Linked DNA regions of Homo sapiens: region 2 is linked to region 1. A link means that fine-mapping ties the variant in region 1 to the expression of a gene that starts in the linked region. Tissue or cell type: lung. Region 1 holds a variant in brackets; the other region holds the start of a gene. All regions are shown on one strand. Distances are from middle to middle.

Region 1 (8,105 bases):
AGGCTCGCTCATCTCGCCTGGGTTTATCCACATGTTGTAACTGCAAATGAACGCTAAAAAAAAAAAAAAAAAAAAAAAATTAGCTGGGCGTGGTGGCGCCTGCCTGTAATTTCAGCTACTTGGGAGGCTGAGGCAGGAGAATTGCTTGAACCCAGGAGGCGGAGGTTGTGGTGAACCAAGATCGTGCCGTTGCACTCCAGAATGGGCAACAAGAGTGAAACTCCGTCTCAAAAAAAAAAAAAAAAGAAATGAAAATTGAGACATGATATGCTGGAAGATATAAGTGCCATTAACGAAATAGAGCGGAATAAGAGGGATCAGGAACGTTGGAGAGGGAGGATTGTAATGTTAAATAATTAGGATTTTGATGTAGAATTTTAATTTTATTTAGAATTATTATTTGTATTAGAGTAAGATAAAAATAATGAGATTAGAGTTAAATTGAATCCATGACTCTGAAAAGTCTCATTCAGCCAATGAAATGGTTAAATGTTTGCTTTGTTTTTGGCCCTGCTGACACCCTGCGGTCACTGAAGATGATACATTGCAGCCCTGGTGCCTAAATCCTCCATGTTAACCTTCATAAAAATAGTGGCCAGTGCCAAATCTCCAGGCAGAGAAATGCCTGATATATTTTGTTACTGATGGGAAGGAGGAATTTTTGGGGGGTTTCAAGTATAATGTTGCAGGAGTCAAACAGGAAGGTTTGAGAAGAAAGTTTTCACGCCCAGGGACAGTCAAACCATGACAGGTTGAATATGGAAATCAATGCCTATAATCAACTGGAACAAGTTAAATCTATATATACGCCCTGAATCCAGGATAATATAAAATAAAGAGATGTTAACATGAGATATGGTTAAAATATAGTTACAATGTAGAAGTAAATTATCAATATATGTTTATAAACATTTGAGAATATTATTTATTAAGTCAAATTATGAAAGTTCCACCTTAGAGCTATGGTCATGACTTGAGTAAACAATCACAATTATTACCATATAAGGAAGCACTGTCCAATAGAAATAAAAATGTGAGGCAGTGGTTCACGCCTGTAATCCCAGCACTTTGGGAGGCTGAGGCAGGCGGATCACGAGGTCAGGAGATTGAGACCATCCTGGCTAACACGGTGAAACCCCATCTCTACTAAAAATACAAAAATTAGCTGGGTGTGGTGGCAGGCGCCTGTAATCCCAGCTAGTTGGGAGGCTGAGGGAGAAGAATCGTTTGAATCTCATACTAGGTCTCCTCCTCCTCCTCCTCCTCCTCTTCTTCTTCCTCATACTAAGAATCACTTGAATCTCATAGTAGGTCTCCTCATCCTCCTCTTCCTCCTCCTCCTCTTTCCCCTTCTCCTTCTCTGTCTCCTTCTCCTCCTTCTTTTCTTCTTCAACAGGGTCTTGTTCTGTCACCCAGGCTGAAGTATACTGGCATAATCATAGCTTACTGCAGTCTTGAACTCCTGGGCTCAAACAATCCTCCCACCTCAGCCTCCTGAGTACCTGAGACTGCAGGAGCACAACAACATGCCCGGCTAATTTTTACATTTTTTGTAGAGACAAAGTCTCCCTATGTTGCCTAGGCTAGTCGTGAACTCCTGGCCTCAAGCAATCCTCCTGCCTTGGACTTCCAAAGCACTGGGATTATAGGTATAGGCCACCATGCCCGGCTTTGTACTAAGTCTTTGAAATCTGGTGTGTATTTTACTTTTTTTATTTTTTGAGACAGAGTTTCACTCTGCCACCCAGGCTGCAGTGCAGTGGTGTGGTCTCGGCTCACTGCAGCCTCCACCTTCTGGGTTCAAGTGATTCTCCTGCCTCAGCCTCCTGAGTAGCTGGGATTACAGGCGTGCACCACCATGCCCAGCTAATTTTTGTATTTTTAGTGGAGACGGGGTTTCACCATGTTGGCCAGGCTGGTCTCGAACTCCCCTCAGGTGATCCACCCGCCTCGGCCTCCCAAAGTGCGGGGATTACAGGCGTGAGCCACCATGCCCGGCCAGCTCTTCTCAGTTTGTATTAGCCATATTTCAATTTGTATTACTCATATTTCACTAAAACCGTGATACTGGCATAAAGACAGACATATTGCTATATGTGGCCACAGGTTACCATATTGGACAACGCAACCACAGGGCCTGAAAAATGAGTTGCTTGCCAGGCACGGTGGTGTGCACCTGTAGTCCCAGCCACCCAGGAGGCTGAGGTGGGAGAATCATTTGAGCCCAAGAGTTCGATGCTGCAATGAACTATGATGACACCACTGCACTCCAGCCTGGATGACAGAGGAAGACTCAATCCATGCTTATTGTGATAACAAATTCCCCATGTATCCAAGTTGTAAAGAAAGGTAAGATGTACCTAATGAAGGTGTGGGCTTCATAATAAATCACAGAAATATCTGTTTATAATGATAGCCAATATTTATTTAGCACTTTCTATGTACCAGGCACTGTACCACAAGCTTCACAAGGGTAATCTCATTTACGTTAATCCTCACAACACCTAATAAGAGAATAATAATGGCTGATATTTACATAACATTGTTCTAGACATTTTGCATATATTAACACATTTGATCCTCAGGGAACCCCATGATGTAGTTTCTACTAGTTTTCAATTTTAAAGATCTGAGACACAAAGAGTTTAACAGCCTTACCTAGTAAGTACAGAGCCAGCATCTGTGTACATGTATTTTAAAAATATACATTATTATTTTTCTAATCTTAGAAAGAGAAGAGTCATATTGAATGATTTGATTTCAAGTACATTGAGCAAATGAATCAAAGATCATTTTATTCTGTTGAATGATACATGGCCATAAAAGATGTTGTGACTATGCAGTACTTGTTAAATTTTATCTTTATCTTTGAATAAGATAAAGCAATCCTATCAAAACTCACTAAACTCTTTATGACCCCCAAAAGGCCTGTGGAACAAATAAACCCATGAGAGATGAGCCCTCTTTTCCGACGTAATAGCCTTGGGGGAGGTGGACCAGAAAGCTGCTGAGCCTGCTCTAATTGGCACAAACAGGGAAGGAAAAAATCTCATAAAACGTTGTCTTGGGCTTTTCAACTTTCTCTGGACAGGATTCCAGTACTATTAAGGCATATCTCAAAAGTGCCCCTAATTTCATGTCTGTGGCCAGTCATGACTATTTTAAGAACACCCTGAATTATAAGAATAGGTAATGGTGCCATCTCCTTCTATAGAAAAGCATTTTTAAAAGTTTTTGTTTTATAGAAATATCCATCCTAAAATTTATGTGAAATTTCAAGAGACCCTGAATGGTCAAAACAATCTTTAAAAAGAAAAACAAAGTTGTAGGTTTTACATTTTCTGATTTTGAAACTTTTAATGAAGCCAGAGTCACTAAAACAGTGTGCTCTTGGCATAAAGACAGACATATAGACCAATGGAGTAGAAATAGAGCCCAGAAATAAACCCTCCTATATATGATCAAATGACTTTTGGCAAGGGTGCCAGGTATATTCAACTGGGAAAGGACAGTCTTTTCAAGAAATAGTTTTGGGAAAACTGGATATCCACATATAAATGAATAAAGTTAAAACCCTACCTTATACCATATACAGTAATTAATTCGAAGACCTAAAATAATTAGATCAAAGACCTCAAATAAGAGCTAAAACTATAAAACTTTTAAAAGAAAACATAACGTTGTTTATAACGATTGTTCATAACGTTGGATTTAGCAGTGATTTCTTGAATATGACACCAAAAGCACAGGCAACAAAAGTGAAAATAGATAAAACTATGCTCTAGGCTGGGCGCTGTGGCTCACGCCTGTAATCCCAGCAATTTGGGAGGCCGAGGCGGGCGGATCACCTGAGGTTGGGAGTTCAAGACCAGCCTGACCAACATAGAGAAACCCTGTCTCTGCTAAAAATACAAAATTTAGCCAGGTGTGGTGGTGGGCGCCTGTAATCCCAGTTACTCAGGAGGCTGAGATGGGAGAATCGCTTGAGCCTGGGAGGCGGAGGTTGCAGTGAGCTGAGATCGTGCCATTGCACTCCAGCC[C/T]GGGCAACAAGAGTGAAACTGTCTCAAAAAACAAACAAACAATGCTCTAAAGGACACAATCAGGGTAAAAAGGCAACCCACAGAATGAGAGAAAATAATTGCACTCCTATATCTGATAAGGGGTTAATATCCAGAATATACAGAGAGTTCTCACAGCAAAACAAACAACCCAATTAAAAATTGGGCAAATAAGCTGGGCACAGTGGCTCACGCCTGTAATTCCAGCACTTTGGGAGGTTGAGGCAGGAGGATCATGAGGTCAGGAGATCGAGACCATCCTGGCTAGCACAGTGAAACTTTGTCTCTACTAAAAATGCAAAAAAATTAACCAGGCATGGTGACGTGCACCTGTAATCCCAGCTACATGGGAGGCTGAGGCAGGAGAATTGCTTGAACTGGGAGGTGGAGGTTGCAGTGAGCTGAGATCACACCACTGCACTCCAGCCTGGGCAACAGAGCAAGACTCCGTCGCAAAAAAAAAAAACAAAAAAAACAAAAAGGGCAAAGAGCTTGAATAGTTATTTCTCCAAAGAAGATATGCACATGGCCAAAAAGCACATGCAAAGATGTTTGACATCACTAATCATTAGGGAAACGCAAATCAAAACAACGAGCTACAATCTCATACGCATTAGGATGGCCACTATCAAAAATATGAAGAAAATAACAAGTTTTGGTGAGGATGTGGAGAAATCAGAATCCTTGTGTACTGTTGATGGGAATGAAAAATGGTGCAGCTGTTGGCTGGGCGCGGTGGCTCACACCTGTAATTCCGGCACTTTGGGAGGCCAAGGCGGGTGGATCACCTGAGGTCAGGAGTTTGAAACCAGCCTGGTCAACATGGTGAAACCCCATCTCTACTAAAAATACAAAAATTAGCTGGTCGTGGTGGCGGGTGCCTGTAATCCCAGCTACTCGGGAGGCTGAGGCAGGAGAATCACTTGAACCCGGGAGGCGGAGGTTGCAGTGAGCCAGCATCACGCCATTGTACTCCAGCCTGGGCAACAAGAGCAAAACTCTGTCTCAAAAAAAAAAAAAAAAAAAAAGAAAGAAAAGAAAAGAAAAGAGAGAAAAATGGTGCAGCTGCTATGGAAAACAGTATGGCAGTTCCTCAAAAAATTAAACATAAAATTTTCATATGATCCAGCACTGATACTTCTGGGTATATATCCAAAAGAATTGAAGGCAAGGTCTTGAAGAGTTATTTGTACACCCATGTTCAGAGCAGCATTATTCACAATAGCTGAAACATGGAAGCAACCCAAATGTCCATCAACAGATGAATGGATAAGCAAAATAGGATATATCCATACAATGGAATATTATTCCACCTTAAAAAGGAAGGAAATCCTGACATATGCTATACCATGGATGTAGCACCTTGACAACATTACGCTAAGCCAGTCACAAAAAGACAAATACTGTATGATTCCACCTATATCAGGTACTTAGTAGTCAAATTTATAGACAGAAAGTTGAATAGTGGTTGTTAGGGGCTGGGGAGAAGGGAAATGGGGAGTTGTTTAATGGGTATAGAGTTTTAGATTGCAAGATAAGAGTTTTGGAGATTGGTTGCACAACAATGCAGATGTACTTAACACTATTGAACTATATGCTTAAAAACGGACAGGTTGGTAAATTTTATTTTATGTATATTTTGCCACAATTAAAAAATGGTTTTGAATAATTTCACACTTAGAAAAGATTTGCAAGATTAGTACAGAGAATCCTGAAGAATCTCCACCAGAGGCATTTTATCATATTTGCCTCCTTATCTCTTTATTTCTCTCTCTCTCTTTCCATATATATATACACACACACACACACACACACACACACACACACACACACATAAATATACACGAATTTACACCTAGTAGTTTTAGCATCCATTAATGATTCTTGCCTGGATTATTACTATAATGGCCACCAAATAGAGATTTTCCTATGTCCATTGTTTCTTCTACATTTATTACTTGAATTCTATAGTAAAGTATCATTTCCTTTCCCGTATCCTCTTTTTTTTTTTTTTTTTTTTTTGAGACCAAGTCTTGCTCTGTTGCCCAGGCTGCAGTGTAGTGGCGAGATCTTGGCTCACTACAACCTCCGCCATCCAGATTCAAAAGATTCTCATGCCTCAGTCTCCTGAGTAGCTGCGACTACAGGTGCACGCTGCCACACCCAGCTAATTTTTGTAATTTTAGTAGAAATGGGATTTCACCATGCTGGCCAGGCTGGTCTCAAACTCCTGACCTTAAGTGATCTGCCTGCCTCAGCCTCCCAAAGTGCTGTGATTACAGGCATGAGCCACTGGACCTGGTCTCCTGTATCCTTTTTAATTAATTTTTTATTTATATTAGTGTGGGCTTAAGGATTCCCAATTTATTCAATAAGTTATAATTCCTTACAATCATAATTTACTTTGATGACTAGATTGTCCCTGATTTGGCCAGTGGGAGCCTCTTTACACTGGCTCCTGTGTTCTTTTGACATTTCTCATCTGTATTAGTTTGCTATGCCTGCTGTAACAGTGTACCACAAACTCGGTGGCTTAAAACAGCTGCAGTTCTCATGGTTCTGAAGTCCAGACATTCAAAATCAACTTCACTGGGCCCAAATCAGGAATATTAACACGGCCATGCTTCCTCTGGGCTCTAGGGGAGAATTCGTTCCTTGCCTCTCCCAGCTTCCAGCTGGCACTTGGCTTGTGGCTGCACCACTCCAGTCTCTGCCTCCTGCCTTCTCCTTTTGCGTAATCTCTCTCTGCCTCTCTCTTACAAGGATACTTGTGTTTGCATTTAAAGTCCACTTGAATAATCCAAGACAATCTCCCCATCTCAAGTTCCTTGATCATATCTCTAAAGATCCTTTTTCTGTATATGATAATATTTACAGATTCCAGAGATTAGAGCTTCAGGGGCCATTACTTAGCTTACTACATCCTCATTCTTTGAATACTTCCTTTCTTCCTGAACCAGTAAGATTTTTCACTGCCCTAGTCATGAAATCAGCCATTTCTCTAAGAACTTTTGGTTTCTTTTTAGTGAAGAATGATACTTGGAAGTCAAGATGTAGATGCTAGGTGCACTCATTGCTATGGGTGTGTCGGTCTTGCAAGTCCTTTCAGTAGGACAAGGAAACAAGATATCAACTAGGAAAAATATGTCTGGACACACACACACACAATCATACGTATGATGTACATTCCGAAGTACTGTAGTGGAGTTGGCTCATATGGACTTGCAAAAGCTGCTTGTTAAATATTCAGGAACTTTGCGGGTGGCTGTGAAACTAGTATTATTTCATGCTGGGAGTATTTACACCGTGGAAATCAGCAAATGCTACAAATTAGTGTGTTTTGAAAAACCAAAAAGCCACTATACATATCATAAACACACACATCTACTCTTCTGTCTCTCTTTGTATATCATATATAATATTCACACACACACACACCCTATAGGCTCACACCTCTGACTCTAATTACAGGGTTTGTTCTAGTCTTTCCCCTTTTCATACTTATTGTCTCCAAGAGTAAGAAACCTGGCTCTCACTATTCTCAATATATTTTCTTATTTGCTCAATCTCCTGACCACATGGGCCATCTCCTTGGCCCCATTCTTACTGACCCTGACCTTGAGCTGCAGGCTTTGCCATGACCCTGCCATTCCTGACCATGAGAACCATTTATTTGGCTCTGAACCTAGTTGTCCTGACCTTGTAAGCTACTACCTCAGCCCCAGACCTGCCAGCCCAGATCACCAGAGTCTCCTTGGCCCAGGCTCCACCAGCCCTAAACTCACTTAAACAACTCTTGGCCCCAGCCCTACACATTTTCTTGTTTGTCTATTCTTCCAATTAAAAACGCCCACTTCGTCATTGTTTTTAACTGCCTGATGTTGAGTGGTCAATTTGATTTTTTCACATGGTTGGGTTAAAGACAGGGTTGCCAGATAAAATACAGGATGACCAGTTAAGTTGAATATGGGACATACATACTTATATTTAAAAATTATTTATTGTTTATGTAACTCCAAACTTAACTGGATGCCTTGTGGTTTTATT
Region 2 (8,105 bases), 120 kb after region 1:
CACTCTAGGGATAATAATCTTTATCTTTCAAATTCAGTCATTTTATTTATTTTTATAGAGATGAAGTCTCACTGTGTTGCCTAGGCTGGTCTCGAACTCCTGCACTCAAGCAATTATCCCACCTTGGCCTCCCAAAGAACTGAGATTACAGGTGTGAGCCAGCACACCCTGCCAGTCTTTCTCCTTTAGCAAAATCCTGCCAACAGCCTGTTTTGAGGTTCCCATTTTTAGACTCCACACAGGCCAGCCCTTCTATTAGTACTGTCTTTCTGAAAAGAGAAACAAGTGATTATTCACTTTCCATAATTCACTAGTTCTCCACTGCCACCACATTAGTCTGCACTACCATCTCTCACCTGGATTCTTTTTTCTTTTTTTCTGATATCCTTGGCAACTGCTAAATCACCTGGATTCTTGAAATGGCCTCCTAACTGCACTCCCTCCTTCCATTCCCCATTAAATTTATTCTCCACGTTGTAATGAGAAGGATTGTCTGCTCAAAACTCTGCAATGCTCTGCTCAAAATCCTGCAATGGCTTATTCTTTCATTCTAAGTAAAAGTCTTTTAACTAAAAGACTGCATGATGGCATGGATCTGCACTCCCCCTCTTCCTTACTCTTTCCACAGCCTCTTGCCATTCCTCAGATATGATAAGCATTGGCCAATCTCAGGGCCTTTGCACTTGCTCTTCACTCTGACTGGCAATTTCCTCAGATATCCACACAGCTTGTTCTCTTACTTTTTTTGGGGGACTCAAATGCCAGTTAATCTGAGAAGGCTTCCTTGACCAACTTATGTAAAGCAGCATCCCTCACACCAACATGCTGTATTGCCTTTTTGCTGCTTTTTCTTCATAGCACTTATCACCACTTCCACTTTTACTATTAAATATTTGCTTATTATTTATCAAACACTGCATCCACCCCAGCTAAGAATGTAAGCTCCAGGAGAGGGGCTTTGGTTCACTGCTATATCCCTGGCACCTGGAAATGCGTCTGGCATTTCGCAGACATTCAGTATTTATTGAATGAATGAATTCCAGTCAGTCTTGGCTTTTTGACACCTCGGCCTCCTACTCTCCTATCTCTTCAGACACATGGTGACAGATCAATGCTATGATGCCCCTCTCCCAAGCAGTAGCTAACCTTTATTGGGCACTCAGGGCCATCTACATTGCTAGGAGCTTTACATGAATTTTCTCATTTGATCCTAACAGTATGAGAAAGTAAGTACATACTATGTTATTCTCATTTTACTGATGAGGATCTGATGCACAGATTAAAGAACGTGCTAATACATGGTGCGGCCGTGGCTGGCAATCAAGCAGCTTGACTCTAAACCTGTGCCCTTAGCCACAAAGCTTGGGTGGTAGAAGCTCCTGTGAGGCTTTGGACTCACAGACAGCTGAAGTCAAGAGTGAAGAGGGCATAGCAATGATGGCCTGAGGGAGAGAAAATTTTGAAAAAGTGTTTACCCCTTATATATTTAAGTTGGTATCTAACTGGTTCCATCATAAATTCAAATAGTTGCAATGGATGTAAATTCTTGCAAATTGTAAATACTGACATTTTAAGATAAAACTGTTAAATCACTCTTTATAATGTATCCAAGAGAATCTACATAACAACTGAATAACCACCATTATGCATTAAAACATACACTAATGAGCTCTTCAACATTGTTCTTTTATTATCTCTAACATATTTAGATTGTACTCTAACAAAAAATGTTATTCAAATATAGTACTTTGATGTTTGAACAACCTTTTCTTGATCACTTCTTCGCAATAAAAATATGACATATGTAGTAAACCTTAAAAAATTTCGTGTAACTTTATGGCTCTACGCTGGAATTCTTCTGAAGTGAGTAATCATCACAATCATCTTTAGTATATAATGGATCAAAATGACACGATTGCAAATATTGATAACACACAGTTATAAAAGGTGAAATTCTATTGGGAACACATCTCTTAGTGAGATAGATGGGGCTGACCCACCAATTAATTCATTTATCTGGATGAATAGTTCCTACTGGTAGATTAACAGGGTTCATTTTCAATTCTGTTGTTTTCACAGATACAAGTGCTGAGAAATGGTTTTACATAAATAGGTGAGAATGCTAGTAGTTTTGTTGTAAGCATGTCAATCAATCGTTTGGTTTCTTTCCGAGTTGCATGCCAAAAACCAAATAGTGTTCCTTCATCAGCTGACAATTCATGGGCCACCATTAATTTTGTTGAAAGCAAAGAACTGGAAACCATCTGACTTGAAAAGAATTTGTTATCCTGTTATTAGAGTCATTCACTTTCTCTAGTGACTTTTAATTATACTAATTACTCTCAGAGGCATTTAGGCAGGGTTGAGAAATTCAAGATATTAATTTCAACACATCTTTAGCATCACAATATCACAGTAATTTAAATATATTTTAGTTGTAGCTATTTAGCTCACTTTATTGTAAATAATAATTATGCTAATTAGCAACGATAGTATGTTTAACCAATTAATCATCAGATTAACTTTCGGTCAGAATAATGGACTTCAATTTTTAAGTCAAAGCAATGTACAGGCGTCCCAGTCACCATATTTCACTTCTGAATTCCAAGAGAGAAATGGCGTTGCGCCTTACTGACGCAAATATGTACCTAGATAAAGTAAGACGCTTTCATTTCAGGTATGTCTAACCCACGCTATCCTTGCTTTGTTCCAGGGCACTCTCGCAGGGAAAACGCCGCCTCTGACTACACTTGGGGTGGTTAAGACGAGATCTTCAAATGAAAATTCTCAACGCTACCGTCCACTCTCTCATACGCTTGAATTCCGAACACCCCAATACTGGCCAAAAGACTCCATTTCTCATGCTTGGTCTTGCTTTTGAGGTAGCTCTAACTCAGAGGCACGATTTTTAGAGCCTGGGAAGTCGGCTGCTGTTCAGTCCTTCCTAGCCTCCTCAGGCGGGAGCCGCGGCCCACTCAGTCAGTTGCGGCCCACTCAGTCAGTTCCGGCCCCAGCCCCGACTACCTGTCGCCTTGTTGGGGGAAGGAAGGCAGATACCGCAGCCCAGTCAGGGTAAGCCGCTGACCCAGAGGATGGAACTGCGGCTCTGGAGATTAGAAAGAGGAGGACTTCGCCGCGTTCACTAGCCCAGGAGGAAAGCCAGAACCCTAGGCCGGAACCCAGCGTCAAGACGTGGGGGAAGAATGTTGATGCAACACAGCTCAGCCGGGCCCGGAACTCGGCGTTTGGGTCCCCGCCCTCTTTGGGCCGGAAGTGAGGAAGGTGGGGCTGGGGCTTTTCCTGTAGAAACTAGGAGGGACTAGGGAGAGTCTGCAAGGGGAAGAGTGTGTCTGTGACACTGCCAGCAGCGCGCAGAGGGAGGGATGGGGGCGGGTATCGGCGTAGGGGCCCTCGGAAAGAACGGATATTGCTGTGACACCGCGGGGACGCTCTGAAGGGACGAGTGTCGGTGTGGCACCGGTGCACGCTGAAGGAGCCGGCGGAACCGGGTGGCCATGGGGATGTGGGCATCGCTGGACGCTTTGTGGGAGATGCCGGCCGAGAAGCGTATCTTCGGGGCCGTGCTGCTCTTTTCCTGGACAGTGTATCTTTGGGAGACCTTCCTAGCACAGCGGCAGGTGAGCCTAGACAGGGTCCAACCTGACCCCCATACCCGGCCAGCCCTGGAGTAGCCTTGGCTTCGACCCTGAGACTCTTGATTGCTTCGGTCCCCGCGCCAGTCTCGTCTTTGTGGTCCCTGCTGAGTCTCGTAACTTGGCCCGATGGCGGACTGTGGCTTTGAGGAGGGTCTTGGTGCGTCAAGGAAGTTTTCTGTAACGTTATCATGGGACCCAATCCCTTTAGGGCCTGGAGGAAGGCTTGGGCTCTTGTGCCCTCCCTGCAGCTTCCTTGGGATCCTTGGGCCCAGACTTGGCCTCCTTTATCTTTGGAATAAGCCTTTAAAAGGATTTAGACACCCAACTTCCTCATGACATTTATGTAATCATGCCTAACCATAGGATTTTGCAGTCCTTCCAAGAACTTGCACTCTTGTTTCTCCTTAAAGTGCATATATTGTTTCTGCTTGAAAAAACAAACAAACAAACAAAAAACTTATCGGGCCCGGCGTGGTGTCTCATGCCTGTAATCCCAGCACTTTGGGAGGCCGAGGCGGGCGGATCACCTGGGGTCAGGAGTTCGAGACCAGCCTGACCAACGTGGCGAAAACCCGTCTCTACTAAAAATAGAAAAATTAGCCGGGTGTGGTGGCGCGCACCTGTAGTCCCAGCTACTTGGGAGGCTGAGGCAGGAGAATCATTTGAACCCAGTAGGCGGAGGTTGCAGTGAGCTGAGATTGTGCCACTGCACTCCAGCCTGGGCGACAAGAGTGAAACTCAATCTCAAAATAAATAAATAAATGAAATTAAATGAAATATATTTCTCGTTTTTCATAAAATCAACATTATTTTAGTTTAAATATTAAAATGGTAAAATAAAAAGTGAAAGTTAACAATTTACCTGAGATAACCATGGTTTAGAGATCTGAACTTTTATTTATTTATTTTTAATCTTTATTTATTTATTTAATTTTAGAGTCTAGCTCTGTCACCAGGCTGGAGTACAGTGGCGTTATCTCGGCTCACTGCAAGAAACTAGGAGGGACGAGGGAGAGTCTGCAAGGGGAAGAGTGTGTCTGTGACACTGCCAGCAGCGCGCAGAGGGAGGGATGTTCAAATGATTCTCCTGCCTCAGCATCCCGAGTAGCTAGGATTACAGGCACGTGCCACCACGCCCAGCTAATTTTAGTATTTTTAGTAGAGACGGGGTTTCACCATCTTGGCCAGGATAGAATATTTATTGTATTTAGAGACAGGGGCTCACTCTGCCACCCAGACTGGAGCACAGTAGCATCATCATAGCTCAAGGCAGCCTCGAACTCGTGGGCTCAAACGACCCCTCCACCTCCACCTCAGCCTTCTGAGTTGCTAGGACCACAGGTGCGGATCACTGTGCCTGGCTAATTGTTTGATTTTTTTGTAGAGATGTTGCCCGGGGTGGTCTGGAGTTCCTGGACTCAAGTCATCTTGCCGCCTCCACCTCCCAAAGGGCTGGGATTACAGGCATGAGCCACCGTGCTCGATCTCCCCTCAGCTTTTATTGGCACACAACAATATATAGGGAAAGCATGTTGTAGTGGCCCATTATTTTGTTTGGTATCCATTCTCTGTATTACATTTCCTGGACTGAAATTACCCTTACCTTTTATAATTTAGTATAATGAGATAGTTGATCTTTCTCCTTTTTTTTTTTTTTTTTTTTTTTTAAGGAGATAGATTCTCTGTCACCCAGGGTGTAGTGCTGTGGCACAATATGGGCTTACTGCAACCTCTGCCTCCCAGGCTCAAGTGATCCTCCCACCTCAGCCCCCCAAATAGCTGGGACCACAGGTGCATACCACCACACTCTGCTAATTTTTGTATTTTTTGTAGAGACGGGATTTCACCACATTGCTCAGGCCAGTCTTGAACTCCTGGGCTCAAGGAATCCTTCTGCCCCTGTCTTCCAAACTGCTGGGATTACAGGCGTGACCCACCGTGCCCGGCTGAAAATTGGTCTTTTCTCACAGACCTGATATGTTTCCATCTGGTGATCCTCAAGTTTCTGGCATTTAGGACCAAATTTAATGAGCAGCCTCAGTATCTGTTCATACTCACAGTTAGCATGTGTGCTTCTCCTTTGCATGAATTTGTTTTCCGTATTATAGGAGGTATGTAATACCCAGAATGAGTAGTACATGTAACAAAGTTGTGATGTTAACAGCTTTGGTTTACATATACAAACTGAAGTGTGATGACAACCCTGATTATAGTTTTACCAGTCAGGTCACCTCAGGTTCTCTTGTTCTGCTTTTATTTTCCTGCATCAGTCGTTTCATGTACTTGATCAAGTGCAATATTTGTGTAGGTATAAAGCAAATTCAACAGATATAAGTGGCAAGCTATAAACCATTCGATGTTTGATCATAAATGACTATTGTAATAAACAACTATTTCACTAAAGTGTTTTCTTTAAAATATTTCAGAGAAGGATATATAAAACAACAACTCATGTACCACCGGAGTTAGGACAGATCATGGATTCTGAAACATTTGAGAAATCTCGACTCTATCAACTGGATAAAAGCACTTTCAGCTTCTGGTCAGGACTCTATTCAGAGACTGAAGGCACTGTGAGTAATTTACTTCTTGGAGAGACAGTCTGTCTGGTTGTTTTCATTTTCATATTTTTGTAACACAAAAGAGGGTACCACACTTACAAGTCCCAGAATGCTTTCTTAACCTTTGTTATTGATAGTAACGGCTGTGGAGCAAAAAAGACAGAAACATAACTGCTTAGTCAGTTGAAAACTATAGAATATGGGAACTATTACCCTGAAGCCAGGTAGGAAAAAGATCCTCTTCCATTAGGATCCAGCTGAGATGTCATGTCTTCTAAGCAACCATTTGAAACTCCCTGCCTGACGAATGTGGATAGGGTAGCATTCTATCATTATTCCTGTCAGAGTACTTATCTCATTATGTTGAATTTGCCTGGATTTTTTTTTTTTTCTTCTGGCACAGTCTTGCTCTGTCACCCAGGCTGAAGTACAGTGGCGTGATCTTGGCTCACTGCAACCTCTGCTTCCTAGGCGCAAATGATCCTCCCACCTCAGCCTCCCGAGTAGTTGGGACTACAGTTGCATGCCACCATACCGTCTCAGAGTGCTGGGATTATAGGCATGAGCCACACTGTACCTGGCCTGATTTGACTGTTTAATTGGCAGACTGGTAGTTCCTTAAAGAAATAGTTAAGTCTTGTTCATCATTTTATACCTAGTGCCTGGCATGTAATCAGCATATAGTTCCTATTTATTGAATGAAATAATGTGGGGTTTTTTTGTTGCTTTTTTTGTTTTGTTTTGTTTTTGTTTTTGAGCAGTGTCTTGCTCTGTCGCCCAGGCTGGAGTGCAGTCGCACGATCTTGGCTCACTGCAATCTCCACCTCCCGGGTTCAAGCGATTCTCCTACCTTAGGCTCCTGAGTAGCTGGGACTACAGGCGCGTGCCACCACACCTGGCTAATTTTTTGTATTTTTAGTAGAGACGGGGTTTCACCATGTTAGCCAGGATGGTCTCGATCTCTTGACCTCGTGATCTGCCTGCCTTGGCCTCCCAAAGTACTGGGATTACAGTCATGAGCCACTGTGCCCTGCCACTTTTATTTTTATCATCCTGATCATCATCATCATCATTTCTCTAGAACTTTTAGATCTACTAGTACCACTAAGAGAAAGATTCCTAAATTTAAAAGAATTATGATCAGCTACCATCATTGTTTCATGAGTTAAAGAAACTGGCTTTATGTAGCTGTGGTAAATGACAGAATTGTCTAGCTCATCACAAAATTTTTCTTAACAAGTATGGAATAATAAGACTAGTGTGGTTAGATCCAAATTATTAGAAACTGCACTTATTTCTTCAAGGTGATGGAAAATGGCAATGCTTCTAGAAGAGTTAAATTTTGGTATTTAGAAAAATTAATAAATGATTTGGAAAACAAAGTCTCATTGGCTTTGGGGATACACAGCTATTGCTATTAAGTAATCTTTTCAATAAAGACTTGGCTTTAGTTAATTTATCTGAGCATTGCTTCTGTTAGGGACATGTCACAAGTAGGAAATCATCCTTCAGAGACAGATGGAAGTAGAAGTGGTTAATTTAGACACTATTCTTTTTTTTTTTTTTTTAAATAGATGAAAGAGAGTTTACTTATGTATTTATATAATGGCCTTGGTCCAAAAAAGACTAAAGGGAGCTCAAAAAAGAATTATAGTAACTTTAAAAAATACATTAAACATATCCAAGATCTTAAATGTATCATTCTCCCCAAAAGCTAGTTGCTTCCAAACTTGACTTAATATTTTGCATGTTTTCCCTCCATTGCTTGGTAAGTGTATTTGCCTCTTCTTTCTGCAGTTGATGTCTGACGGCTGAGTTTTGCTGTTTTGTCAACTGACATTTCCCCTTCTGTTTCACCAGTTCCAGAGAATTGTTGAACAACTTAACA

What was found. PIP is the estimated chance that this variant, and not a neighbour inherited with it, causes the effect.
Region 2: ZMPSTE24 starts here. The variant in region 1 is fine-mapped to the expression of ZMPSTE24 in lung (TOPMed, PIP 0.96).

Annotation. Positions count from the first base shown.
Region 1 is chr1:40,133,522-40,141,626 of GRCh38, forward strand. It overlaps the pseudogene OAZ1P1. Among named protein-coding and RNA genes, the nearest start is that of RLF, 24 kb to the right of the region's middle. The variant C/T (reference allele first, on the strand shown) is at 4,041.
Region 2 is chr1:40,254,757-40,262,861 of GRCh38, forward strand. ZMPSTE24 (zinc metallopeptidase STE24) reads left to right here and starts at 3,480. Exons shown (of 10, transcript NM_005857.5): 1 at 3,480-3,638; 2 at 6,083-6,229. The coding sequence starts at 3,516. RefSeq lists enhancers at 2,711-2,840, 3,071-3,340, 3,421-3,700, 3,791-3,890.